4 linked regions of the Homo sapiens genome follow. The main gene of each other region encodes a partner of the protein of the gene in region 2 in a complex. Each region holds a gene or a part of one and is shown on either strand. Other genes may lie near its edges. The genes, in order: TRAPPC12, TRAPPC8, TRAPPC9 and TRAPPC11.

Region 1 (7,257 bases), on a different chromosome or scaffold from region 2:
CATGAGGCAGCCTGGAGATCCTGGCCACACAGAGCTTTCTCACACAGGTAACGAGGGTTGCTGCAAGCATCCCAGTGCAGGCAGGAGCCGATGCCCATGGTGGCAGCTCACGCGTCACGCATCTGTGCCTGCCTGGGGTTATTCAGTGACAGTCATCTGCTGTGCCCCACCACAGGGGCCCATGGACAGGGCTGTCCTCCAACACTATCTGGTGTCCCATGTGGACTTCCACAAGCAGGCGGCGTGCAGGAGATGGTGTGTGCACGTGTGCCTACGTGTGTCAGTGCATGTGTGAGCAACTGTGTGGAGGGGGAGAGGACCAGCTGTTAGCTGAGAGTGCAGGCCCTGAGTTCACAGAGGCCCTGTTCAAATTCTAGCTTCCCCATTATCTATGTGGCCTCCTGTAGCTGGATATCACTTAACCAGGAGACCTCAGTTTGCTGATCTGTAAAACAAGCCAGTCACACCGTGAGGTGAAATGCTCAGCGCAGGGCCTGGCTCACCGTGAGTGGGTGCCTGTGGAAGGTCTGTGCTGCTTCTCCCCGCTCAGCCATCCCTTGCTCGTGCCTCCTTTCCCTGGCCCAGGTTTGGGACGTGACCTAAGACTGAGGGTGAGAGGGGCAGAAGCTGCCCTGTGCTCCGCCTGCAAGGGTGGGATTGACAGGGATGTGGGCGGGACTCATCACTCCCTGTGACCTCCCTGTCACCAAATATTCCAGGAAAATGCATTCCAGCTTCAAGGACATTCTTAGCAAAGGGGGTCCTGCCGAGCTTTGTGCATTACTGAGACCACTGTTCAGTCTGGACTTTGTCTGTCCAGCAAACATGATTCAAGGGTTATTTCAGGCAAAATATCAGCGAGTGACTATTACGGGATAAGCTGAACTGAGATTCCTCACGGTTTAGTCAGTGCTTTCGTAACTGCAGCAGGACAATGTCTAGAGTAACTCATTTCAGTGTGGCTGTGATGACACTTTCTGTGGGTTCACATTTAGCAACAGGCACAAAAGCCAGCAGGGCCTCCCACAGTCAAACCAGAACTCCTGGAAAGAACCCACCCTTTTCATGGTCACATACATTTGAATTGGAATATTTTCTGCAGTCTTTCTTATATTAAAATGATTAAAAGCAAACAGTCGCCCATCTGAGCAAAGAACTATCATAAGGCCTTTCTGGCTCATGTCTGACCGTGCACAGGTACCTGCAGGGAAATCCGGCCGATGCCGCTGAGCAGCTGGGGCTCTTGCTCTGGGTAATACTTGATAACCGAATGATACGCCTCCACGGCCAGCACATAATCCTGTGGGAAGAAAAACCCAACGTACTTTAGAGCTGAGAACAGCACTGTGGGTTTCACACGTGTAGAAGAGCACAAGTGTATACAGACGCGGTGTAGAGAGAGGACACGCTGACGCAGGAGCTGGCGGGGAAGCTGGAAACCAGCACGCGGTGCTCGGCTGCCAGGGGGCGGCTGCTCTCCCGACTGCAGTCGGGCCGGGATTCTGAGCTGTGCGCATCGCAACGGCGGGGTCCTGCCTGTCACCGGGGGCTGTCGCGGTTTAGTTGGGCCTGAGGGTCTGTTTCCTGCTTCCATCTTCTAAACAGCGATTCATATTTCACTTGGACTGCACCTAACTCTCTTTCCTGACAAAGTTATCATGTGAGTTGGCGAACGCTGTCTCATCTCCATCCTCCAAATACATAGGCCAAATTTTTAAAGTGTCTCTTAAACGTTTTCTATGCTAGAAATTAAGGTCAAACCTTTACATGTAAAGAAAAACCACAAAACAAGTTTGCTGAGGCTGAGTATGTGATGGAGGTCGGCCTTGCAGAGTGCGTGAATGTCGTGTGCTCCGTGCGGCACGCATGAGACCTTCCCGTTTTAGAGACAGCTACGGGGGAACATGTAGGAGCGCTGTGCCAGCTGCCGTGCTCAGGGCATCTGGTTTCTGCCAAAGGCCTTTGCTGGATTCCTCATCGCTCTGCCCTGCCTGTGGTGGTCTGGCCCGTGGCCCCTCCTCAAGGGCAAGGCCTGGCAGCACAGTCTCACTGTCCATCTGCCCACTCATGCCGGCCCATCACAGCCACTTGCTGGACGCTGAGCGGACCCAGTCACCCTTTCCAGGTGTGAGCAACGCGGTCTCCGTGCAGGAAGGTCTTGCCAAAGTCACGTGGGACACAGTGGTAGCTTGTCTCAAGTCCCCAGCAAACCCGGGCTCTCTCCAGGATGACAGTGATCGCCGCATTTATTGAGCGAGCTGTGTGCGGCAGGCCCTGCACTAAATGCTCCCCTGCATTCTCGCACTTAGCTATAAGCACGCGGTCAGCAGTAACTATGGCCACCAATGGTGTTTTTCTTCTTACTTACTCATCGTATAATCCCAGAGGTACTTTTATTTCTTTATTCTTCTACATGTTCCATTTCCTCCAAACTGGGACTGGAGTTACTGGCTTGCTAATTGGGATGTTACAAAGAAAGACAGACAAGTACAATTCCAGTTTGGTAGGAAGGAAAAAACAAAAAAAACCCAAAACGACTCTCTCCAGTCTAGTACCTTCGAGTACAGCTCATTAAAACTAATTTTATTCAAGGCCTGACGCCCATGACGAGCCAGACAGCACATGCCTCGGTCTCCTTTCCCACGCCTTCCTGCTGCCTGTCTCTGCTGTCTAGCTGTGCGAGTGCGAGCATGTGTGTGTAAGCGTGTGTGAGCATTGTGTATGAGTGTGAGCGTGTGTGTGAGCATGTGTGTGTGTGGACGTGTGTGTGTGAGCTCCCTCACACAGGGGAGGGCTTTGTGACCTGGCATGGGGGCACTCGGGGCGGCTGAGGTTGCAGCTGGGACGGACATGGCACCCCAGATGCAGCTGTGGGGCCTGCACACCCTGGGCTGGCCCTGATCTGAGAAGTTTAGGGGAGCAGCCCTGCTTTCCAACAGAGGCTGCACTCACCAGCTTGCACCAGCTCGGGGAAAAGTAGCAGCTGCCCCCCTAGGCTTCTCTGGGGAAGGAAGTAGGCTTCCGAGCACCCATCATGCTGGGCAATGTCTGTTCTAATCCCACACATGTCCCACCTTTGGTTTCAAGTAAACAAAAGGCAGGCTTTGACTTTCTTGTTATCAGCCCGGCAGTGTCACTGGGTCATTCCAGTGCCCCACTCACGCCACTGATGCTCCAGGCTGAGGCGGCCACCACAGAGAGCGCAGGGTGGGGGCGTGGTGGGGGCGCAGCACTCACTGCTAGTGGGCGATGCCGTGGCCAGCCGCATCACCCTAACCGCTCTTTCAGTGCTCAGGGCCAGGGGTCAGTGTTTCTGAAGATAATCTAGTATGACAAAAGACAGGTTTTTACGAAACCAAGCCATGCTCTTTGATGGGAAGTTACTTTAGGCATGGCTCTTCCCAAAGAGCACGTGCACAGGCCTGGGAGCCGTGTGAGAGGAAGCTGGATTCCAGGCCGGGGGCAGGCGCGGCAGAGAAGGGATCTCGGGGGCCCCTGCACCCGCCGGCAGCCACTCCCACCAGCTCAGCAACAGTAGCGCTCGCCAGTCCCTCAGGTGTGAACATGACACGTGTCTGTGTGTCCGGGCTGCAGTTGGGGGAAGAATTCTGGGGCACTTCAGGGGGCCCATCGTCAATACAGCAGATGAGGATTTGGGATTGTGTTACAAAGTTTCCTTAGGTTGACGGTTACTTAATGACTTTATTTACTGAAGAGGAAACAGCCCTTCACAGGTAAAATGGCCAAAAGAAGCTCCTCAAGAGAGCTTAACCTACTCTCCAGATCCTGTGGATTTGGCTTTTGTAAAGGACATGAATGACTTACTTCCAGGGACAAGTCTATTTTAGCTCAATCTTCACCATTTCTTTTCAGCAGCCACACGTGTTTACAGGCCGTGAAACTAGATTTACAACCATTCTGCAACCAGCAAGGACTTCTGCAGTCTAATTTCAGCAAGACGGAAGGTAGCTGATGCAGCTGCGTGCTCCTTTCCATCATGTGCGGAGCCACGGCGGGTTCTGATGTGCATACTGGCGAGCTGTGGGGACACCAGGAGGGAAGTGGCCTCCCAGGGGCACCCGGGGGAGGGGGGGCCCAAGCCACCTAAGGTGGCAGGCACCTGCATCCATATGGTCTGCCAGTGCAGGTGCCCTAAGGCTACAGTGAGGCCTAAGGAGAGGAAGAAGTATTTAAAAAGTGAAGATAGTGACATTTTCAATGCTTTATAATACATGCCACTGTGCATTATAGCATATCATGCAGATTTATCCAGGGCTAAAACGTATGAATACATTTCATTGCTAAGAAGTTAAATTGGTATTTATTTCACTGTAATAAAAATGTTATTCAAGATAATTAAATGGCTGATTAAATAACTCATTGTTAGCCCATATACATAATTTAATTAACAGGATACCCCATATTATTAAGATCACACACTGTTGCAATACCCTGTATGCTCACTAGATGGCAAGAGAGTGCATATGCTTGGCTTGGCTTTAATTGCAACATTTTTGCCTCCTTTTTTTAACTCATGAAAATGAAAGCTTAAGCTGAACTTTCAAATTAAATCATGTCCATTGTAAAAGTATTTTTGAAATGCAATAATATGTTCTGTACTGAGTCCCAGCAATACAGGAAGAAGACTCACATTCGGAGCCTGGTGGTGGTGTTACTACCACAGTGCCACAAAGAAAAGCCCATTCCGTCGTTTTCTATTAATGTGTCTTAAAATGCAAATGAAAGCCCGCCAGTGGAACAGGGAACTTTCCTCCCTGGGGAGTTTTAGCCCCATGATTAGTGAAACGTCAGTCCTGTGAATTTATAATTGATTCTTCATGTCTTTGCATAAGAATGTTCCGGCAAGCTGGTGACTTTCAGGTGACGCTGACAATGCCCTCAGCAGGTGGAGGCCTACTGCGGACCGCCCAGACCGCCAGGTGGGGGTGTCAGGGCTGGCCACAGGCAGCACAGGGAGAATGGCCTGTTTTGGGAGGCAGAGGGGTCAGGCCGGGTGCTTCGGGGTCACCTGGTTGCTGGCCAAGCCTTGGGTGGTGAAGAGGCCACCAGGGCAGGGGAGCAGGAGGGCCTACTTTTCACTCCCACTCAGAGGTGGGCAAGCCCTGCTGCAGAAGCCAGAGGGGGCTGGAGAAGGGAAGGGGGCGGGTGGGAGGAGGGTGAGGACCAGAACAAAGCACCTGTGCGGGCCACCTGACCTCAGTGGGACTATCTCAGGAGTGGCAGCGGAAGAAAAACCTGCTCTGAGCAAAACCACAGAACTTGAAAACCGTAATTTCCTTTATCCAGTGTGTTGAAGGAGAGGAGAGAGCTGTGTGAATGTCAGAGCTGGGAGGGATTTCAGAGATCTCAGATCTATGCCCTTATTTTAAGGAGGAGGCTGAGGCTTGCAGTAGTGCGAGGCTGCGTCACGGTCGCTTGCTACCGAGGATGAACAGGACGCCGAGTCTCCTTGTGCGTCCAGCCTGACGTAGACGCAGAAGCGCAAAGGCAGCGGCCCCGCACTGGGCACTGGGGCTGCGCTAAAGCCGGGGTGCGGGCTGCACGTCTTCCTGATGGAATGCCTGAGCCACTGATGGCTGTGAATCTATACCCGCACCCAGCCTGCTCGGAGCAGTGCCCGGGGTCACAGTCACCTCTGGGGATGCTGCAGGGTCCGTGCATAAAGCAGGGCTGCCACTTCAGGGTTCATGACAGAGCCCGTGAGCACAGTTCTCCGCTGGTAAATTGCCTGCTCTGCCTTGCTGAAAATCAAGCTCAGGAATGACCTTGGCCCCATGAAAGCCGCATGGGTGTGGGAGTTAAGGTCGCTGTCTTCGAACAGCCCAGGAGGTGTTACGAGCACTGCTCCGGAGCGCCTGCTGCTAGCTGATTCCTGCAGTAGCTCTCAGTACGCACAGCTGGCTGCAGGGACACTAGCTCCACACAGGGCACCCTGATGCCCAGTGTGGGAGGTGAGCCAGGTGTGGGGTGCGTTCCAAACAAAGAGAGGAGCCAAAAAACACCGTTGCACAGGCTGGCGAGAGCCAGGAGACACGGAAAAACAGATGACAGCCTCAGTTCAGCTCCTTGATTTCTAAGCTGTTTCCCTGCGGGCTGAGAGCTCTGGGGTGACGTCCTAAGAAGGTCTTGTGGGGAAGCCTGTCTTCAGGTGTTGTAAGCATCAATCATAAAATCAAAACCATGAGGTGAAAAAAACACCCTCCACGAAGATAGGGAGAACAAAGGACACCTTCTGGGGATGGAGTTCAGAGAAAAATGGGGGAAAATGAACAATACTTTTAATTAAATCATTTAGACCCACATTTCAATAATGAAATCTGATCATCTAAATTCTACATTCTGTTGAAATTTCTTGCAGTAGAAATAAAGTACATATAGCCCCATAATGTGTCACTGGGCTCCCTGTTAAGCCAGTACTTAGCTGGCTTCTCTGCACGGCCGGTCCCTGCCAGCATCTATTATACCAGCGGCTCCCTCGCGGCTCCCACTGACCCCGCTCTTCCAGATCACATGGCAGCCCTGCTTGGCCACCCACGTACCTTCATCAGGAGCAGACAGTTTGCCATGGAGTACATCACCCGGCCCAGACGTGACCTCCACAGCCGGATAGAGGCTACAAGGTAAGAGCAGCCTGTAAGTGCACAAATAAATTCGAGGCTCTTTCTAGCCCTCAATTACTGGGTCCTGTGAATTCTAATTTAACTTTAAAAGATCCCTCTTGTTAACACCACTGGATTTCGGCCTGGAATGCTGAATATGCTGCAGGCTGCACTGAGGCAGAAAATACAGCACTCGCATTGGGACCAGAGGTGGCTTTGGGAAGAGACCCTCGGCATCAGAGAACCAGGAGGGTGGCTGCTCAGCATCAGCCCAGACACAAGGCCAAATGGTCCGACCGGGGGCCCCGTTTCCAAAGCCAGAACCCTGAGAAAAGGAGCAAAGCTGACAGAAACGACGACATTGCCTGCAGCTCGACAAGGCTGGGAGGGCCACTGGCCAGGGTGGCCGCCAGCCTCTCGCAGTTGACCTATGGGAGGCCACCCGGAGGGCCCCACCCATGCCCAGCCATGAGGCCTCCCCTGCCTCCCGACCATGGGCTGGTGCAGACGCCGGTTCCCCCAAGGAGTGCTACACCGTGTTCCAGAACTCAAGTGGCTGGCACATTCCGCTGGGGACTCGGCACTCCCCTGCAGCTGGCTTCCTTCCCTAGCACCTGCTGCCACACGGTGGCTGACC
Region 2 (7,257 bases):
GGGTTGCAGTGAGCCAAGATTGCGCCACTGCATTCCAGCCTGGGCGACAGAGTGAGACTCCGTCTCAAAAAAAAAAAAAAAAAAAAAAAGCCGGGCGCAGTGGCTCACACCTGTAATCCCAGCACTTTGGGAGGCCAAGGCGGGCAGATCACGAGGTCAGGAGACCGAGACCATCCTGGCTAACACGGTGAAACCCTGTCTCTACTAAAAACATAAAAAATTAGCCGGGCGTGGTGGTGGGCACCTATAGTCCCAGCTACTTGGGAGGCTGAAGCAGGAGAATGGTGTGAACCCGGCGGGCGGAGCTGGCAGTGAGCTGAGATCGTGCCACTGCACTCCAGCCTGGGCAACAGAGCGAGACTCCGTCTCAAAAAAAAAAAAAAAAAAAAGGAGTCCATTATAATGATTGAGGACCCAGCTTTTGGAGTTGGACCTTGATTTAAATCCCAACCCATTACTTATCAACTGGGTTACCCTGAACAACTTAACCCTTCTGTGCTTCAAATTCTTCATCTGCACATGTGATTACTATCTACTTCACGGGATCATTTTAGTGATTTAGGTGAACTATTGTTAGACAGTAATTGCAAAGCACTGAGCACCATGCTCAACAATACATAATGAAGGCGGTATAGCAGCAGCAGCAGATACAACATCACCTATTTCACCTGCACCATGGGTTATTATCACATACAAATAAGAGGCAACTTTGGGAAAGTGGTCTGGGTACCTACAAATAAAGAATGACACATTCTTCTCAATGGAAAATGCCTTATACCAAAATCAAGGCCTGCGTATATTTTAAATAAAGTTATATGCATACAAACTTTTCTACATTTCCTATGTGTTCTATTGATTTCTAACATTTTTTACTAAAAAAAAAGACTCAAAAACGTTTTTAAAATACTGTATGTGGTACAAATGTGTATTTATATTGTAAACATAAATATAGATACACAAAAAGTATACATGCAGCCGGGCATGGTGTCTCACTGTTGTAATCCCAGCACTTTTGGGAGGCTGAAGCGGGCGGAACACTTGAGGTCAGGAGTTCGAGACCAGCCTGGCCAACAAGGTGAAACCCCCATCTCTACTAAAATACAAAAATTAGCCAGGCATGGTGGCAAGCGCCTGTATTCCCAGCTATTTGGAAGGCTGAGGCAAGAGAATCACTTGAAACCAGGAGGCAGAAGTTGCAGTGAGCCAAGATTGCGCCACTGCACTCCAGCCTGGGCGACAGAGACTCCCTTTCAAAAAAAAAAAATGGTACATGCAAATTCTATGATAGTGGTTGCCTATAAAAGGAAGGAAAGAAAAGAGACTAAGATAAGGTAGAAAGAAAACTTCAACCTGGGAAGTCTGTCCTATAACGTTTGATTTTTTTTTTAAAAGAAAAGATAAAAAGCAAATATGATGGAGGGTTAATATTTGTTAGTTCTGGGTAGTGGGGAGGTGGATGTTTCTTGTATTATCTGCATTCTTCTATAACTGTTATGTTTTCTAACTTAAATAAACATACCAGCCTCTCTCCCTAAACTTCCCAGTCAGTCTAATTATGCAGCAGAGAAACAAACAAACAAACAAAAAAACTATGGTGCATTTCTGATATCCTTAGGAACATATTGGACAAGTATTTTCCTTAAAGTTGCTTCATAGCTGGGCGCAGTGGCTCACACCTGTAATCCCAGCACTTTGGTAGGTCAAGGCGGGCGGATCACCAGAGGTCAGGAGTTCAAGACCAGCCTGGCCAACGTGGTGAAACCCCGTCTCTACTAAAAATACAAAATTAGCCGGGCATGGTGGCACGTGCCTGTAATCCCAGCTACTCTGGAGGCTGAGGCAGGAGAATCGCTTGAACCCGGGAGGCAGAGGTTGCACTGAGCCGAGACCACACCATTGTACTCCAGCCTGGGCAATGAGAGCTGAGATCACACTACTGCACTCCAGCCTGGGCAATGAGAGCTGAGATCACACTACTGCACTCCAGCCTGCTGGGCAACAGAGAGAGGCTCCGTCTCATAAATAAATAAATAAATAAATAAATAAATAAATAAATAAAATGTATTTTGAAAATAATGACATCTTTTATGCTTTTACCCAGCATATAAAACTGTACAAAGAAAACAGGCTAGGCCGGGCGTGATGGCTCATGCCTGTAATCCCAACACTTTGAGAGGCCTTGGCGGGCGGATCACCTGAGGTTGGGAGTTCAAAACCAGCCTGACCAACATAGAGAAACCCCGTCTCTACTAAAAATACAAAATTAGCCAGGCGTGGTGGCGCATGCCTGTAATCCCAGCTACCAGGGAGGCTGAGGCAGAATTGCTTGAACCTTGGAAGTGGAGGTTGCAGTGAGCCGAGATTGCGCCACTGCACTCCAGCCTGGGCAACAAGAGCGAAACTCCACCTCAAAAACAAACAAACAAACAAACCAAAAAAAAAACAGGCTTTATAAATAAGTCTGCAATTACAGGCTGGAGCCGCTGCACCCAGTGGCTCAAGCCAGCTACTCGGCAGGCTGAGGCAGAACTGCTTGAACCTGGGAGGTGGAGGTTGCGGTGAGCCAAGATCGTGCCATTGCACTCCAGCCTGGGCAACAAGAGCGAAACTCCATCTTAAAAAAAAAAAAAAAAAAAAGCAGGCTTTATGAACAAGCCTGCGATTATAGGCTTGAGCCACTGGACCCACTGCACCCAGTGAGTGCCTCAAGCCTGTAATCTCAGCATTTTAGGAGGCTAAAGCAGGAGGATCACTTGCACCCAGGAATTCAAGACCAGCCTGGACAACAGAGGGAGAGAGACCCCATTTCTTTTTTTTTTTTTGAGACAGAGTCTCGCTCCGTCACCCAGGCTGGAGTGCAATTGCATGATTTCAACTCACTGCAACCTCCGCCTCCCAGGTTCAAGCAATTCCCCTGCCTCAGCCTCCCGAGTAGCTGGGATTACAGGCGCCCGCCACCACACCCGGCTAATTTTTTGTGTTTTTTTAGTAGAGACGAGGTTTCGCCATGTTGGCCACGCCGGTCTCAAACTCTTGACCTCATGATCCACCCACCTCGGCCTCCCAAAGTGCTGGGATTACAGGCGTGAGCCACCACACCTGGCACAAGACCCCATCTCTATAAAAAAATTTTTTTTAATTAGCTGGGTGTGATGGCACACACCTGTGTGCTACTCAGGAGGCTAAGGTAGGAGGATCTTGTATACTTTATACATATAAAACTTTACCATATTAAAAAACCCTCTGGCTGGGTGTAGTGGCTCAAGCCTGTAATCTAGGCACTTTGGGAGGCCGAGGCTGGCAGATCGCTTGAGTCCAAGAGTTCAAGAACAGCCTGGGAAACACAGCAAAACCCCATCTCTACAAAAAAAATTTTTTTTTTAATTAGCCAAATGTGTGATGCAAACCTGTAATCCCAGCTACCCAGGAGGCCAATGTGGAATGATCGCTTGAGCCCAGGAGGTCGAGGCTGCAGTGAACCATGATCATGCCCCCTGTATCCAGCCTAGGTGACAAAGTGAGACCCTGTCTCGAAAAATTAATAAAACAAAATGAAAACAAATTTCGAAAAACTGACTTGAATTTTATTCAGAGTTTGGTACTTCCACACCTTGGAGATTAATTACTTCATTATATAAACATGGTAGTTAAGATTGATGAAATATTTCCAACTAAAAGAAATTTAAGAGGCCAGACGCAGTGGCTCATGCCTGTAATCCAGCACTTTGGGAGGCCGAAGGCGGGTGGATCACTTGAGGTCGGGAGTTCGAGACTAGCCTGGCCAACATAGCAAAACCCTGTCTCTACTAACAACACGAAAATTAGCCAGGAGTGGTGGCCCGTGCCTGTAATGCCAGCTACTTAGGAGGCTGAGGCAGGAGAATTGCTTGAACCTGGGAGGCGGAGGTTGCAGTGAGCTAAGATTGTGCGACGGCACTGCAGTCTGGGTGACAGAGCAAGACTCCGTCTTTAAAAAAAAAAAAAAAAAAAAAAAAAAGGAGCCAGGCGCGGTGGCTCACGCCTGTAATCCCAACACTTTGGGAGGCCAAGGCGGGTGGATCACGAGGTCAGGAGATCAAGACCATCCTGGCTAACATGGTGAAATCCCGTCTCTACTAAAAAAACACAAAAAATTAGCCAGGCGTGGTGGTGGGCGCCTATAGTCCCAGCTACTCAGGAGTCTGAGGCAGGAGAATGGAGTGAACCCAGGAGGCGGAGCTTGCAGTGAGCTGAGACGCACCACTGCACTCCAGCCTGGGTGACAGAGCGAGACTCCGTCTCAAAAAATAAAAATAAAGGAAAAGGAAAGAAATTTAAGGCCGGTCGCAGTGGCTCGCGCCTGTAATCAAAGCACTTTGGGAATCCAAAGCGGGTAAATTGCTTGAGTCCATGAGTTTGAGACCGGCTGGGCAGCATGGCAAAACCCCATTTCTACAAAAACTACAAAAATTAGCCAGGTGTGGTGGTACATGCCCATAACCCCAGCTACTGGTGAGGCTGATGAGGGAGGATATTTTGAGCCAGAAGGTTGAGGCTATAGTGAGCCACGGAGTTCAAGACCAGCCTGGGCAACAGAGTGAGGCTCTGTCTCAAAAAAAAAACTGCTCACTTCAGCAGCACATATACTAAAATTGGAATGATACAGAGAAGATTAGCATAGCTCCTGCACAAGGATCACACAATGTTTTTCAAGAATTCAAAAAGAAAAGAAAAAGAAATTTAAGAAAACTGGAGATATTAAATAGCCTTCAAAAGTTATATCCTAGTCTACTTTTTTTTGTTGTTTTTTTGAGACAGAGTCTCGCTCTGTCACCCAGGCTGGAGTACAGTGGCAAAATCTTGGCTCACTGCAACCTTCACCTCTCGAGTTCAAGTGATTCTCCTGCCTCAGCCTCCCGAGCAGCTGGGACTACAAGCGCCCACCACCACACCAGGCTAATTTTGTACTTTCAGTAGAGATGGGGTTTCGCCACGTTAGCCACGCTGGTCTCAAACTCCTGACCTCAGGTTATCATCCAACTCAGCCTCCCAAAGTGCTGAGATTACAGGCCTAAGACACTGCACCTGGCCTACTTTTTAATCCCTTTAGTAACCTTAATTTCAAAATAAAATAATATATAACCCACATACTTCCAAGTTAGTGTTTAAGTGAAATTTTCTTAAAACTTACAGAACATCTAAATGATATATTGCAACATTGTTTAGAACTATCAAAGAACTATCACTAAGCAAAAACAAGGCTTAATTTTAATTTTTTGTTGTTTGCTTGATTAATTAATATTAATACCACGACTCTTTGAAACATGGCCAGTGGAAATTCTTTGAGTATTAGGATCTCAAAATTTGTGTCAAACAATGACTACATTAACTCTCAAACATACATCAAGCATAACAATCACAGAAAATACATATAATAAATTTAATTATATATTTTAATATAATTTAATTTTAACATAATTTAATACTCTTCAGGTTTTAAAATGTCTCTAAGGAACCTAAAATGGCTCTCCGTTGTGTAATACATCAAGTCTAAACTGTATTTTGAAGGCCCTACACACAAATAGTACTCAAATCTCTTCTACCAACCCTCTCTTTGGTATAGCTTTAAACCAAGTGTTTTCTACTAAAATCTAAAAATAAGTCTCCTGACAATACTTGGCACTGTACTTGACACTCCTTGAAAACTCAGCAGTCAAGGCAAAGTTCTACCCTAAGTAAAGGCATACCTACAGGCCAGAAATTGAGTCTTCTTTTTTAACATATTTTTTCTCCCTCTAAGGAAATGTTAGCTGGTTTTAGTCAGTTGTATTCTTAAATTACATTGCCTGAAATTATATTCTCATGCCTCACTTGCTAAAGAAAAGCTGTTGCCTAGCTCAGTGGCTCATGCCTGTAATCCCAGCACTTTGGGAGGCCAAGGCGGGCAGATCATGAGGTCAAGAGATAGAGACAATCCTGGCCAACATGGTGAAACCCCATCTCTACCAAAAATAGAAAAATTAGCTGAGCATGGTGGCACGAGCCTGTAGTCCCAGCTACTCGGGAGGCTGAGGCAGGAGAATCACTTGAACCCGGGAGGCGGAGCTTGCAGTGAGCCAAGATCTATCTCGCCGCTGCACTCCAGCCTGGTGACAGAGCGAGACTCCGTCTCAAAAAAAAAAAAAAAAAAAAAAGCTGTCTTTGAAGAATCCCCACACTTGAAACAAAAAGTAGCTGTTCTAGGTGGTAAAGAATTCTAAAATGTATTTATACCAGCAAAAAACTAAAACCAAGAAAAATTAAGTCCTCTTTGCCAAATTTCTAATGCTACTATCATAGTCCATGTTCATCTTGAAATGTAAAACTTGTATCTACTTATATCTATCCTTATAAACCACACAACTCACTAATCTCCAAAACTTTCAACTCATTAATGTCCAAATGTTTCAGACCCTCAAGAATCTACTCACATTTACCATTAGACATAAAATCGCAAATCCCTTTCCTAGAATTCAAGGTCCTCCCTTTATCTAAGCATCCTCTTACTACTCTGTACCCCAGTAAGAGTTTCCTCCCTGTTTCCCAACCATTCAGTCATAATTTAGACCTTTTGCCCATACCATTATAACCTCATACCACTCCTTCATAGGGAATGACTGCCCTCTTGCTTTCTACCAACTGTCTACCTGTCCACTAACGTCCAACTCATTATACTCCTTCACTAGGCTGGACGCAGTGGTCCGAGACGAGCCTGGGCAACAAGGAGAAACCCCATCTCTACAAAAAATTTAAAAATTAGCCAGGCATGATGGCATGTGCCTGTAGTCCCAGCTACTTGGGAGGCTGAGACAAGAGGATAGCTAGAACCTGGGAAGTTGAGGCTGCAGTGGGTGAGGGAGCTATGGTGATACAATTGCACTCCAGCCCTCCCAGCGTGGGTAACAGAGCAAGACCTTGTCTCAAAACAAAAAACAAACAAACAAAAAAACTCCTTCCCTAATCTTCCCCAGTCTCCTGAAGGAAATCAGAAGTGTACTGACAATGAGCCGCTATCACAGCACTGTCCAATACAGTAGGCAACAGCTGCATATGGCTACTGAGTACTTGAAATGTGACTAGTACAAATTGAGATGTTAAGTATAAAAGGCACACCAAATTTCAAAGACTAAGCAATAAAAAAGAATGTAAAATATCTCATGAATATTTTTCACATTGATTACACATTGAAATAGTAACATTTTGGAAATACTGAGTTAAATAAAATACAGTATTAAAACT
Region 3 (7,257 bases), on a different chromosome or scaffold from region 2:
AGGCAATTTCTGACTCCCACTGATAAAGATTCAAGAATCCGAGCCCCAAGGCAAAGCACCAGTACTTTTTCCTATAATCGGATTACAGCAGGCACCCAACTCCAGGGCAGGGATCTAGTCATTCTGGAGCCACCAGCACCAACCACGATGTCTGCCACTCAGGGCAGGGGCTGAAACAGCATGTGACCATCAGACAGAAAGCAACACCTTAGCGCCAGCAAGGGGACTCCAGTACCTCTGCTGAAATCTTTGGGATCCAGCGACAGACTGTAGCCGGGCAGCGTTTCCAGGAGGAGTTTGTAGCAGGCCCTCCACCCAGGCTCCGCGATGCTTGGGGCCACGCACTGCATGGCGGCCACGCGCTTGAAGAACGCAGACTTGCGATGGAAGCCGATCAGCTCATAGAGCTCGGAGAGGATGCTGTAGCGCTGAATTTTCTCTTCCTCAGAAAGCTGAAGCACAGAGAGAAAGTAAAAAGCTTTTGAAAGAAACGTATAAGTGAAAAAAGAAGCACACATTAAAAATGTCTCTTCATAAAACAAAGACCTGAGGAGAATCGAGGAGAATCAAGGAGAGGGAAAGCCTGGTGAGCAGCGCATGGCGCAGGCCCCAGGTGGCTTCAGACCTTCCCCAGCCACAGCTGCAGGTGCAGCCCATCTTCCTGCTGATAAAGCCCAGATTCTCTGCTACAAAGGTACCTGCTACAAATCTGAGACCTCTACTTTAAGTTCCTTCACAAAAGAAAAGAAAAGGAACAAGAGTTCATCTACACAACAGGATTTTATCAAGGTCTCTCATCAAACACAAAAATTCTTAAAACACAAGAAGACACAGAATCATGTAACTGGGTAATGAATTATTAACAATACCACTGATATCAGACTTAAGACTTCAGGGTTTACAAAAGTTTTCTTTCATCCAAGACCCAACTGAATCCTCCCAACAACCCTGTAGTGTAGCAATCATAACTTCTGTTTCTTTTCTTTTTTTTTTGAGACGGAGTCTCACTCTGTCACTCAGGCTGGAGTGCAGTGGTACGATCTTGGCTCACTGCAACCTCCACCTCCCGGGTTCAAGAGATTCTCCTGCCTCATCCTCCAGTGTAGCTGAGATTACAAGCACCCACCCCCATGCTGGCTAATTTTTGTACTTTCAGTAGAGACGGGATTTCACCATGTTAACCAGGCTGGTCTCGAACTCCTGACCTCAGGTGATCTGCCTGCCTCAGTCTCCCAAAGTGCTGGGATTACAGGTGTGAGCCACCACGCCCAGCCAACAACTTCTGTTTCTTCAGCACCTACTGTATGGCAGCAGACTTAACGTACCTGATTTACTCAATACAAGCATCCTGTGAGCTGGCAAATAAGGACATTAACAGCTCAGGGACACATTAATCACCTGTGCAAAATCACACAGCCAAGAAGTATCAGGGACAAGACCTGACTCTGGGCCTGGGCCCTGCCCACTGCACAGCGCCTTCAGAGAAGAAGGAAGGCAGAGCCCACTCTGCTGCTCCAGGAGCACTGTTAAGGAAGCGCTTCTCTCCCTCCTCTGCCCTGGACGATGAATGTTTCCCTGATGTTTCTGTGAGTACAGAGCCTTAGCTTGAACGCCCTTCCAACTTGGGCCTCCAAACCCTCCCTCCATCCCCTCTCCTCCGCGCTCACTGCCATGGCCTCGATGGGGCCCTCGTCAGCCCTCATCTGGAAGAGGAATCGGCATTGTCTTCCTACCACCTCTCGACCTTCCTTCACCTGTCCACACACCCCTGCCAGACTTAGGTTCCTGAGACATGGCTCAGAGCCCATCACCCGAGCCACGGTTTGAATGTTTGTGCCTCCCCAAAATTCACATGTTGAAAGCCTAGCCCCCAAGGTGATGGAATTAGGAGGTGGGGACTTTAAAAAGTGATTGGGTCAGGGGGTGAAGCACTCACAAATGGAATTAGTGCCCTTATAAGAAGAGACCCTAAAGAGCTAGCTCACCTGTTGCACCATGTGAGAACACAGAGAAAAGACGGCGGTCTATGAACAAGCAAGTGGGCCCTCCCCAGACACCAAACATGCTGGCACCTGGATCATGGACTTCTAGCCTCTAGAACTGTGCACAATACATTTCTATTGTTTATCAGCCACCCAGTCTGTGGCATTTTGTGACAGCAGCCTCACCGGACTAAGACAATCCCCATCTTGAAACCACTAGACCCCTTCAGGACTGTAAAATGGAGCCCAAATGCCTTCACGGGCATGCCAGGCCCTCCTCAGCCCCAACCTGCTCTGGAAATTCGAGGCCCCACTGCCTACCTATGACCTCACCAGACTGAACAACTTTAACTCATTTGTTTTCTCATTCTGTCAACACATATTTACTGAACCCCTACTCTGGTGCCAGCCACTCTTGTGGCAGAGGATACAGCAGTGAGCAAAACAAGCTAAGACTCCTACCCCTGGGGGCCTCCATGCTAATGACAGGCTAGTCCCCTGGCTTAGAATCAGTGGGGAGGATGACAATAAATCAATGAAAAAATAAACAAAATAGCTGCTCTAAGTCCAATGAAATACTCTTTGACATAGAATCATGGGTGGAAGCGTATGAGGCAGGCTGTACTAGGTGACGCCGCCGGGGCACACAGGCTCTCTGCTCCTGCAATGCCTCCACAGCCACATCTGGCTCTCCCTTTGGACACTCGGTTCCAATGCCACCCTCTCCAAGAAGCTGGTCCTCATGCCCTTCAGCGGGAAGCTGCTGCTTCTTTCCCTAAATTCTCCTAACCATGCTGGACTCCATAATGTCCTTTCTCTGTGTCTCCCACACAATTTACCTACATATCGGATCTCTGCCAGCCCCACTTTTCCTACAGTGAAAGGTCATGCCGACGCCGACGATGTGTGAGAATCCCTGTTGCTCCACCTGCTCACCAGCATATGAGGATATCACCTGCTCACCAGCATATGAGGATATCACCTGCTCACCAGCATATGAGGATATCAGTCTTTTTTATTTTAGACGTTGTGGTGGCTTTAACTTCCATTTCCCTGAAAACTAATGATGTTGAACCTTTTTCATATGATCACTGGCCACTGGTATATCTTCCTTTGTGAAGCGCTTGTTCAAATCTTCTGACAGTTTTTAAAATTAGATCGTTTGTTTTATTACTGAGTCGTACGAGTTCTGTATATATTCTGAATGCAAGTCCTTAGTTATATGTGTTTTGCAAATATTTCCTCCCGGTCTGTTGCCGATTTATTTCCCTAAGGGAGTGTTCATAAGCAAAAGCATTTCTCTGTGATGTAGCTCAATCTATCAGCTTTTTCTTCTATGGTTAGTGCCTTCTATGTCCTCATCTGAGAAAAATCTTTGCCCGAGGTCACAAAGATATCCTATGTTTTCATCTAGAAGTTGTTGTCTAGGTCTATGGTCCGTGAATATTCAAATTTGAGTAGGACATGGCCTGTCCCTTTCCAGGAGTGTGCAGTACAGCAGCGAACAGAAGCCCCAGTGCTGGAGGACAGCAGCCAGGGACGGGGTGGAAGAGGACTGTAAAGAGGAGGCAGGGGTTGGCCGGGCGCAGTGGCGCACACCTGTAATCCCAGCACTTTGGGAGGCCGAGGCAGGCAGATCACCTGAGGTTGGGAGTTCGAGACCAGCCTGACCAACATGGAGAAACCCCGTCTCTACTAAAAAATACAAAATTAGCCAGGCGTGGTGGTGCATACCTGTAATCCCAGCTACTTGAGAGGCTGAAGCAGAAGAATTGCTTGAACCCAGGAGGCGGAGGTTGCAGTGAGCCAAGATTGTGCCATTACACTCCAGCCTGGGCAACAAGAGTGAAACTCCATGTCAAAAAAAAAAAGAAAAGAAAAGAAAAAAAGAAAAAGAAGAGGTGGGGGTACTTAACGCCTTCATCACAAATCTGGAAATGCCCAGACCTTCAGCTGCACCCACTATGTGCCAGACATGATCAAAGATGTTGGGGCAGAGAAGGGGGCAGAGAAGACGAATACTGATCTTAGCCAGTGCCTGTAAAGAGGTCACCATCTAAAATAAAGGTGACAGCCGGGGAAGGTCACATGCCTTGGCCACCAATGCGTTAGAACTCCCATTGATTCTTTCATGGAACCTATCTAAGATGAAAGGTTGTAAATAATACTATGATCAGTAATAATATTACTTCATTCCTCTTATCATTTCAGTGTAATAAGAAGTCAAATGATAAATACTACATTGCAAATGGAATTGACATCACTTTAAAGCCCTAAAACGGTTCCTTAATGGGAAAAGCTCGAGCGCAACTGCTTTTGGGCACTAGGCAGACAATTGACTGAGAAGCCATGAGCCCAGAGAGCCTCAGGACAAAGCCATGTTTGGTCGACACAGGCACCTATGGCACAAGGAGCCGGGGAGTACAAAATGGTCCCTGGCAAAGCTAGGCCAAGATCCTCAGGAAATCTTGAAATGAGATGAAATCCCCAAACTCATTTCCAACCTGCTGCTCTTTTAGGGCATATTAATCAGCACATCTTTGTTCTAATCTTTCAATAGGCTGCACAGTCACGAAGTCCAAGTTCAGGGCCCAGATGTTTATGTGAGGTTCCAACGAAAGTGGCTCCAAGACTACTCAAGACAAGGAGCTTTATTCACAAGGCAGACTCTGAGGGATCCAAATATTAACTCACCATTCCATTTCCAAGTAGAAAGTAAGTTTAGACCTGCTTTATTCTGTTAATAAGAAATAAAGTGACAAGATCAGAGGGAAACTCCAGACACAGGACTTGTCTCTGGCAGGATGGAGAGGGAGGAATACAGCCTGGAGCTGTAAAGTCCTGAGTTCCAGGGCCACATCTGCATATCCCTAAGAAACAGGGATCATCAAATCTAATTACGATTGTCAAAAAGACTCAATGAAATAATGCAAACACTGAGCATAAGCCTAAAACTCTCAGTGAGTGTTCAAGAAACAGAAATATCACTGTTAGTTAATGCCTTTGACACCACAAGTTCTAACCCCAAGTTAACCAGCCACTGATGCTCTAGAAAATGCCTTAACCCTCATCAGCCTTCTCAAACGTGGGCACTTGCAGTGATCAGAAGAACAAGTCAGTGACAGATGTGTAGGGGCAGCCTGGTGGCCGCACTCAACTAAATGATGACCGTGGGAGAATGCCGGATGGGAAACAGCAGGCCCCACACATTCCCAGGTTTGAAAACACACTCTGCTCCTCTCTCCGGCTATTTCCAGCCATAATTACATGGAGAGAAAATACATCTTCAAAATTATACAAACTTTCCATATATGTCTATCAAAAAAGTTTGTTAAAAACATAACCTACTTTCTCATATCCCGGAGTAGGGGTATGAGGCATGCACCAAGGATTTTCCTTTATAAAGCATCTGTCTAAAGTAATTGGATCCATTTTCAGTTTTAATCATTCAAAAGTAAGAATGAAAACAAAGCAAAACAAAACAAAAACTTCAATAAGACCTGGTCCCTCAAAACTTCATGAAGTAGTAGAGGAGATAGGTCCATAAAGAATCACAGTGTTGGAGGCCGGGCGCGGTGGCTCACGCCTGTAATCCTAGCACTTTGGGAGGATGAGGTGGGCAGATCACAAGGTCAGGAGATCAGGATCATCCTGGCCAACACAGTGAAACCCCGTCTCTACTAAAAATACAAAAAATTAGCCAGGCGTGGTGGCAGGCACCTGTAGTCCCAGCTACTTGGGAGGCTGAGGCAGGAGAATGGCGTGAACTTGGGAGACGGAACTTGCAGTGAGCCGGGATTGCGCCACTGCACTCTAGCCTGGGCACAGAGCAAGACTCCATCTAAAAAAAAAAAAAAAAAAAAAAAAAGAATCACAGTGTTGAGGCCAGGCAACGTGGCTCATGCCGATAATCTCAGCACTTTGGGAGGCTAAGGCAGGCAGATTACCTGAGGTCAGGAGTTCGAGACCAGCCTGGCCAACATAGTGAAACCCCATCTCAACTAAAAATATAAAAATTAGCCGGGCGTGATGGTGGGTGCCTATAGTCCCAGCTACTCAGGAGGCTGAGGCAGGAGAATCACTTGAACCTGGGAGGTGGAAGTTAGCAGTGAACCGAGATCGCGCCACTGCACTTCAGCACAACAAGAGCGAGGCTCCATCTCAAAAAAAAAAAAAAAAAAATCACAGTGTTGGGAAGAAGATGGATGGAGAGATGGCTGAAACAGGGATGCTGTGCCCTATGCCTTGGACAGATACCTGGAAGGTTCCTAGACTACCAGGTATACCCACCACATGCTAGAGGAAGGACACTTTGTAAACAGTCAGTGCCCTTGTTGAGTGCACCATCCAAAAGAGATGGCCAAGCAAAGTCCGCGCTTGACCCCTGATCACCTCAGTTCCAGCCTTTGATTCATTCTTGGATAACCTGAAAAACCCACTCCTTTGGCTTCAAGAAATACTGCCTATTTTACCATCTTTGGGTTTAGTGAGCAAGCGAGTTCATGTGTACTTTAAAGATGATTTGAACTCTGACTACAGCTTTTCTCCACATTCATCTTTCCATACCAGAGTTCTCAGTTTCTTTTTTTTTTCTTCTCTTTTTTTGAGACAGAATTTCACCCTTGTGGCCCAGGCTGGAGCGCAGTGGCGTAATCTCGGCTTACTGCAACCTCTGCCTCCCAGGTTCAAACAATTCTCCCGCCTCAGCCTCCTCAGGAGCTGTGATTACAGGTGCCCGACGCCACACCCGGCTACTTTTTGTATTTTTAGTAGAGACAGGGTTTCGTCATGTTGGCCAAGCTGGTCTCAAACTCCTGACCTCAGGTGATCCGCCTCAGCCTCCCAAAGTGCTGGGATTACAGGCATGAGCCACTGCACCCAGCCAAGTTCTGAGTTTCTTTAAGTCTGTTCTCCATAAAATCTAGTCCCTCCAATGACAACTCATGCAGCCTGAAATTAAAAGCCAATTAAACAAGACCATACACAGCTAAAACGTCCCCCACCCCCCATCACTCCTTTCCTAAACTCCTCTCCTGCCTGTCCGAAATAGACTAATGCCTTCCGCACTACACTACAAAACACTAATGATGTGTTGTCAGATTAGATGGACACGGTGGTGCACACCTGTAATCCCAGCTACTTGGGAAGCTGAGGCAGGTGAATCGCTTGAACCCGGGGGGCAGAGGTTGCAGTGAGCCACGATCACGCCACTGCACTCCAGCATGAGTGACAGAGCAAGACTGTCTCAAAAAAAAAAAATACTTTGGGATACTTA
Region 4 (7,257 bases), on a different chromosome or scaffold from region 2:
CGTCCCAAAGTGAATGTGCATCTGCCTTCCCAGAAGAGAACAATCCTCATAGATGAGTAAAGGAAGACAGCTTTCATGTTTCTATCTATGGAATCACTATTCTCATCTGTTCAATAAATATCAAGACCTTTCCAAGAGCCATCTTCTATTCCAGCATATAAATTACCTTCATAGAAATTCTTACACAGTTCAAGTATTATACTTTCCCGCCAATTTTCATTTCTATTCCATGCTTATAAAAACTACTCTACTTTTTTTTTTCTTATGGTTTATATTGTGAATTTCTTTTCTTTTAAGACGGAGTCTCACTCCATCGCCCACTAGAAATGCAATTTCAGCTCACTACAACCTCCGCCTCTCAGGTTCAAGCAATTCTCATGCCTCAGCCTCCCAAGTAGCTGAGACTACAGGCACCCGCCACCACGCTCAGCTAATTTTTGGGTTTTTAGTAGAGATGGGGTTTCACCATGTTGGCCAGGCTGGTCTTGAACTCCTGACCTCCAGTGATCCGCCCACCTTGGCCTCCCAAAGTGCTGGGATTACAGGCGTGAGCCACTGCGCCCCGCCTGTATCTTAAATTTCAAATAAGATATATTCAGAATATAATCTAAATTTTAAAACTAATTGCTTTATATTCCATTTTAGCGTTATTAGTTTTTAATTATAGTAGCTTATATTTTTTGTTGAAAAAAAAAAGGAAAGAAAAGAAATGAAATAGTAGGCTATTAAGGGAAAAGTAAAATAAGAGTCCCCATACTTCACTTGAGCCCAGGAGTTTGAGGCTGAGATGAGTTATGATCACATCACTGCACTCCAGCCTGGGCAACAAAGTATCTCTTTAAAAAAAAAAAAAAAAGAGTCCTTGTGTTGACCCTCTAATTTCATAATGAACAAAACAAACAAACAAAAAAAACCCCTGCCCTTCTGCCCTTGTGGAGCTTAGATTCCAGTAAGGAAAAACAGGTAATTTACCAAATAATCACACAGACAACGGTGAAACCACAGTGTGATTAGTACTACCAAGGCTATGAGAGCCTGGCTAAGTGATTCAGTCATGTAAGTCAGGGGAGGCTTCCCTGAAGAAGTGATGCTTTTAAGTGAGAAAAGGCAAGAAGGAATGAAGTAGTCGGAGAGGAGGGCAAACCAATTCAAGCAGAGGAAAGGGCATGTACAAAACCTCCTGTCCTTCATTCATCCTATCCCCACTTTTCAGCCGCTATATGCACTTGGCAATCCAGATTTATCTATTTTTAAATGCCTCTTATATCCCTGAATCTCCATTCCCAACACCAGCAACTCAATTCCGATACTTGTACTTTTGTACATGGATTAATATAAAGAGCCTCTAATTGGCTTCCATGATATTATTTCTATTTTGCTACTAGAATAAAGTTTCTTAAAACTTTAAGAATAAATTGCATGCTCTTGCTTTAAAATTCTCAAACTGGGCCAGGCATGATGGCTCACACCTGTAATCCCAGCACTTTGGGAGGCTGAGGTGGGTGGGCTCCTTGAGCCCAGCAGTTCAAGACCAGCCTGAGCAACACTCCATCTCTATAAAAAAATACAAAAATTAGCTGGGCATGGTGGCATGTGCCTGTAGTCCCAGCTACTCAGAGGAGGCTGAGGTGGGAGGATCACTTGAGCCTGGGAGACTAAGGCTGCAGTAACTCAAGATGGTGCCACTGCACTCCAGCCTGGGAGATAGAGTGCAGCCTTGTCTCAAAACACACACAAACACACACACACACACGCACACACACTAAAATAAAATTCTCAAACGGATTAGAGGAAATCCCTGGGCAAGGGTCTGAAGTTGAATAGAACATACTGATCTTCAGGTGACCCAGCTTCATCTAATCATTTCTATTACAGAGATATTTCTCTTTTCTTATGAATCAAATCCTAATAAAACAGATAACGTTTCTTTATCACCATCCAATAAATAGAACACAGACAAAAGAACAAATAAATCTTCAAAGACATCTGTTTACTAGCCTATCCCCGCTTAACTCTTCCAGGTTCCTTTAAGCCACCTGGCCTTATTTCCCACCACCCAGCATTATAAACCCTCTGTTCTAGTGAGGTGTGACTTTCCCAGAAACACAGATTGTGCGCTTCTGTTTCCATGCAGTGTTTTCTCATTGCCAAACATGTTCTCCCCCTCCATCTTTTCGACCTATCGTAATTTCATCTTCATTCTTGGAACTCCCTCCCTTTTTTCTGGCATGCCTACTACAGCTGTCCCTCTTTCTAGCCTACACTACGTAATTTAGTCTTCATTACCTATTTGGGCAATCTTTGATTCTGTCCTGGCCCTTGTCCCCAAAATGCCTAAATTTTAATGAGGTCGACATATGCTATACTCAGATTCAGCATGTTAAGAATATCGTAACTCTCAATAAATGCTTGTTGGTGAAAGACTCACTATACTTTCTGGGTAATCAAAAGATGATTATCTACTAAGTGAGTTTATAATAGAGTTGTAATGAAGTACTTGACTATATACTATATAATGCTTCAAATATATTCAAATGCAGGAAATATGATCCCAATTCTGCAAGAAAAAAAGTTGCTTATATATTCATGTGCAGAAAATGTCTAGGTTATTCAAGAAGTTAACGTAGAGGGTGTGTGGGAGAATGGAGAAGAAAGAAGACACACATTTACTTTTCACATTATATCCATCTATTCCATTTCAATTTTTTAAATGTCAAACATAAATTAGTTCCATAATCATAAACTAATAACATTAACTAATAATGTTGAAGTAAAATATAAACCAAATGTTTTTTTAATTCTATTCATTCTGAATATACCTTATTTGGAATTCAAGTATACATTATAAAAAAAATTTAAGGCCAGATGTGATGCCTCACACCTGTAATCCTAGCACTTTGGGAGGCTGAGGTTGGTGGATCACTGGAGCCCAGGAGTTCAAGACCAGCTTGGGCAACACAGCAAAACCCTGTCTCTACAAAAAATACAAAAGTTAGCCAGACGTGGTGGCAGGTGCCTGTAGTTCCAGCTACTTAGGGGGCTAAGGTGGGAGTCCAAAAGGTTGAGGCTACAGTGAGCTATGATTGCACCAATGCACTCTAGCCTGGGCAACAGAGCGAGACCCCGTCTCAAAAAAGACAGAAAAAAAAAGTATATATATACTATATGTGTACATATATATATATATACACACACACACAGAGAATTCTTAAGACTTTATAAACATGGAGTGAAAACAAAAATTGGAGTAAGCAAAGTGTAAACTTGAATTGCTAGAAGTTTAGAAACATATATATATATATATTTTTTGACACAGATCTTGCTCTGTCACCAGGCTGGAGTGCAGTGGCACGATCTCAGCTCACTGCAACCTCCATCTCCCGAGTTCAAGTGATTCTCCTGCCTCAGCCTCCCAAGTAGCTGGGACTACAGGCACGTGCCACCACACCCAGCAGATTTTTTTGTATTTTTAGTAGAGACGGGGTTTCACCATGTTGGCCAGGCTGGTCTCGATCTCTTGACCTTGTGATCTGCCTGCCTCGGCCTCCCAAAGTGCTGAGATTACAGGCGTGAGCCACTGTGCCCGGCCCTGGAGATATATTTTTGAATAGACCTTACCAAAGTTCATTTGTTACTATGAAACCATTAAGACATAAAATTCACTAAGCTCATTTTATCTAGTTTAACATAAGCTACAATAAGATAAACGTGGTAAAAACACATGACATGGCATCATTACCTGATTATTAAAGCTGACACAGAGCTTGGAAAACCTAATGGGATGTGGACAATCAGCCTTCAGATAAATATCAAACTGAACAGGAACATCAACATGAAAACTTGGGGCATGAAACTTGGCTTTGCACTGCACTAGAAATAAAACAAAAGGGCTGTGTTATGCACAACCAGATACCCACGACCCACACACATCCTGTTAACCAAATTGATTCTTCAGAAAGACACATCTGCACTGACCATTCTTACTGACTTCTGCACTTAAGGCACTTCAAGAGACAAATGAGCTAACTTTTTATTATAAAAATAAAATTTAGGCTGAGCACAGTGGCTCACGCCTGTAATCCCAACACTTGGGGAGGCCAAGCCAGGCGGATCACTTGAGGTCAGGAGTTTGAGACCAGCCTGGCCAACACGGTGAAACCTTATCTATACTAAAAATACAAAAATTAGCCGGGCATGGTGGTGTGCACCTATAATCCCAGCTACTAGGGAGGCTGAGGCACAAGAATCACTTGAACCCAGGAGGTGGAGGTTGTGGTAAACGGAGGTCGCAGCATTGCCCTCCAGCCTAGGTGACAGAGCAAGGCTCTATCTCAAAAAGAATAATAAATAGGCCAGGCATGGTAGCTCGTGCCTGTAATCCCAGCACTTTGGGAGGCTCAGGCGGGTGCATCACCTAAGGTCAGAAGTTCAAGACCAGCCTGGCCAACATGGTGACACCCCATCTCTGCTAAAAATACAAAAATTAGCTAGGCATGGTAGTACACGCCCATAAGTAATCTCAGCTAGTCAGGAGGCTGAGGGAGGAGAATCGCTTGAACCTGGGAGGAAGAGGTTGCAGTGAGCTGAGATCATGCCACTGCACTCCAGCCTGGGTGGCAGAGTGAGACCCTGTCTCGAAAAAGAAAAATAAAATAAATGAACAAATAAATAATATAAAATAAAATTTAAATAAATTACAGCTTCAAAACCATCTTTAATTTTAAAAACACAGCTGCTCCTGAAATGTAGATGACAAGATTTTAAATGAAAAAGAACCATTTTATTATTATTTCAAAATACCTACCTAGACAGTAAAGCACAACCTTTTAAATAACTGTCAGGTGTTTCTAATAACACCTGAACTACAAATGAGCAAAGTGTATTTTAAAACATAAGTCAAGTATTTAAGATCCTAACTACCTTTGTAAGTCACTGAGGGGACACAAAAAAAAATCAGTTTATCTATAACATGATTATACTTTGAAAACTCTTTCTTGACTTTTATATTTATTATTCTGCACCTATTCATTTTGTAGAAATAAGACAATTTCTCTGAAATAGTACTGTAGATGTTAGCTACCTACCAAATGGCACAAAGTCCTGTACTCCTATTGTGAAAATATTGCTGCCAGCCAGAGAAATTCGGTCTGCCCACAGCTTCTGAGCAGTTTTCACAGCTAAGATATCACAGTCGGGTTCTGGATCAGGACTTTCATTCTGCATCAACACAGAGTTAACATCCATTCAACTAGTTGAATAAAAACCACTACTTGGATTAGTTGATATAGATATAAGTACACATATTCCTAATAACACACTCTATATAAACAATTCCAACCTACCATTAAAACATTTATGAGGTTCTTTTCTATCCGAGACTTCTGGTCATCTTTCAGAGTTGAAGCTAGTATGAAGAAAGAAGGAAAAACATTTTAAGTACTTATAATTAAGTCTACTACCCCCATTTATTGTTTTAGAAACTTGATATAATAATAAATACCTCTTTAAGATGACTAAGCACAGTGATTTGCACATAGTAAAGTATACTAATTATCTGGGACTAAATTATTCTTTAAATTTTAAAAAGCTTAAAGATGCTAAATAATTTTATGTATCAAGAATTTTACTCAAAAAACATCAGGTTACCTCTACCAAGGAGTTCTAGGGAGTAAGTAATGTAATCCTTTAATTGGGCCATGAGGTAGGAGCACTTCAGAGCTGTAGTTAATACAGAAGTGAGCAGAGTCCACCATCCTTCACTCCGATAATCACACATCACATAATCCAGCAACCTCAAAGAAGACAAAATGTAATACTGAACCGGCTTCACAAGAAAGGGTTCGAAGAGTTCATGGAGAAAAAAATACTTTCCTCATTTTATGTAAGTATAGAAAAATCTTACTGAGATGGTTGAACAGGTATTCTCATATTTAGCTAAACGTGAGATTTCTTAAAACACTGAAAAAGATTGTGCCATCAATAGCACTTGAAAAAAACATTACAGAAATGGAGTTTAACAACAATAGAAATAAATATGAAAATACGAACTCCTTCAACACTGATTTCTATTTCAGTTTCACTTCAGATAATCCAAATACTTGTAAAAGTAAATAGTGAACAGGACTCACTTCAAAGCTTTGGTATAATCCTTTGCGTAATAATATTCCTCTCCCATCTGAACCACTATAAAGGAAAAAAAGATTTATGTATGTAACTTAAAGTCATTCAAAGTTGCATGCAATGGTGACGTTTGTGGATACATACTTAGGTGACTTTTCATTCGCGGGCACTTATACTTCTTGAACTGTGCAACAGCATTGCTCAGAAGAGTTATGATTATCTCCTATTAGAAAAAGTAGAGTGTGAAACATTTCAATACAAATATTTTTCTTAAATAGTGTAAAAAATAGTTTATATTGGACACAAAACTTACAGAGTGAACAACATTTCTCTCCTTCAGCTGAATGGCAAGAATTCCCACCTTTTCTTTTTCAGGATCAGAAAGATCAAAACCTGCGTAAGATGAGACACAACTCATTTTAGACAGCTCATTTAATATAAATCTTCATATGAACGTTGTATGTGTACACTCCTTGAAACCTTTATTTAATATAATCATTTCAGACTCTTCAACATTCTAGAATCGTAAAGGTGCTAAGAGGCAGCTTTATTAACATGGAAACTTCCGTGTTCTGTTCTGATGGGAACATTATTGAGCTCAATGTTCTTCTACCTACTGGAATCAACGATCTGAAAAGCAATGTCAATATCATCCTCTATAGAGGATACACTTGCTGGAGATAATCATTTCCTTTTTTTCTTTTTTTGAGACGGGATCTCACTCTGTTGCCCAGGCTGGAGTGCAGCGGTACAATCACAGCTCACTGCGCATCAACCTCCTAGGCTCAAGCGATCATCCCATCTCAGCCTCCCAAGTAGCTGGGACTACAGGCACATGCCACTATGTGTGGCTAATTTTTGTATTTTTTTGTAGAGATGGGTTCTCACTATGTTGCCCAGGCTGGTCTCAAACTCCTGGCCTCAAGCAATCCTCCCACCTTGGCCTCCCAAAGCGCTGGGATTACAGGCATGAGCCACCTCGCCTAGCCAGTAATTTAACAGTTATAGTTCAATTGCTTGAATTAAATTACGTATAAAGTATTAAAAAATATGCAGAGAAATTGTTTTTAAGGTAATATGAGTTAATGCTGTTTTAAAATGTCAAATCAATTGTTAAAAGTTAACTGGAATTAAAAT

The links.
Region 1: TRAPPC8 (region 2) and TRAPPC12 share a complex: the UniProt entries of both Homo sapiens proteins name them as parts of the multisubunit TRAPP (transport protein particle) complex.
Region 3: TRAPPC8 (region 2) and TRAPPC9 share a complex: the UniProt entries of both Homo sapiens proteins name them as parts of the multisubunit TRAPP (transport protein particle) complex.
Region 4: TRAPPC8 (region 2) and TRAPPC11 share a complex: the UniProt entries of both Homo sapiens proteins name them as parts of the multisubunit TRAPP (transport protein particle) complex.

The regions. Positions count from the first base shown.
Region 1 is NC_000002.12:3,459,640-3,466,896, reverse strand, and holds part of TRAPPC12 (trafficking protein particle complex subunit 12), read right to left. Parts: intron 6,635-7,257; coding exon 6,561-6,634; intron 6,254-6,560; coding exon of another isoform or gene 6,194-6,253; exon of another isoform or gene 4,299-6,193; intron 1,301-4,298; coding exon 1,202-1,300; intron 644-1,201; exon of another isoform or gene 1-643. UniProt on the Homo sapiens protein: Component of the TRAPP complex, which is involved in endoplasmic reticulum to Golgi apparatus trafficking at a very early stage.
Region 2 is NC_000018.10:31,932,932-31,940,188, forward strand, and holds part of TRAPPC8 (trafficking protein particle complex subunit 8), read right to left. Parts: intron 3,521-7,257; exon of another isoform or gene 3,490-3,520; coding exon of another isoform or gene 3,408-3,489; intron 1-3,407. UniProt on the Homo sapiens protein: Plays a role in endoplasmic reticulum to Golgi apparatus trafficking at a very early stage. Maintains together with TBC1D14 the cycling pool of ATG9 required for initiation of autophagy. Involved in collagen secretion.
Region 3 is NC_000008.11:140,370,729-140,377,985, forward strand, and holds part of TRAPPC9 (trafficking protein particle complex subunit 9), read right to left. Parts: intron 453-7,257; coding exon 236-452; intron 1-235. UniProt on the Homo sapiens protein: Functions as an activator of NF-kappa-B through increased phosphorylation of the IKK complex. May function in neuronal cells differentiation. May play a role in vesicular transport from endoplasmic reticulum to Golgi.
Region 4 is NC_000004.12:183,683,231-183,690,487, reverse strand, and holds part of TRAPPC11 (trafficking protein particle complex subunit 11), read right to left. Parts: intron 6,514-7,257; coding exon 6,434-6,513; intron 6,344-6,433; coding exon 6,265-6,343; intron 6,184-6,264; coding exon 6,129-6,183; intron 5,793-6,128; coding exon 5,647-5,792; intron 5,405-5,646; coding exon 5,343-5,404; intron 5,218-5,342; coding exon 5,085-5,217; intron 3,871-5,084; coding exon 3,740-3,870; intron 1-3,739. UniProt on the Homo sapiens protein: Involved in endoplasmic reticulum to Golgi apparatus trafficking at a very early stage.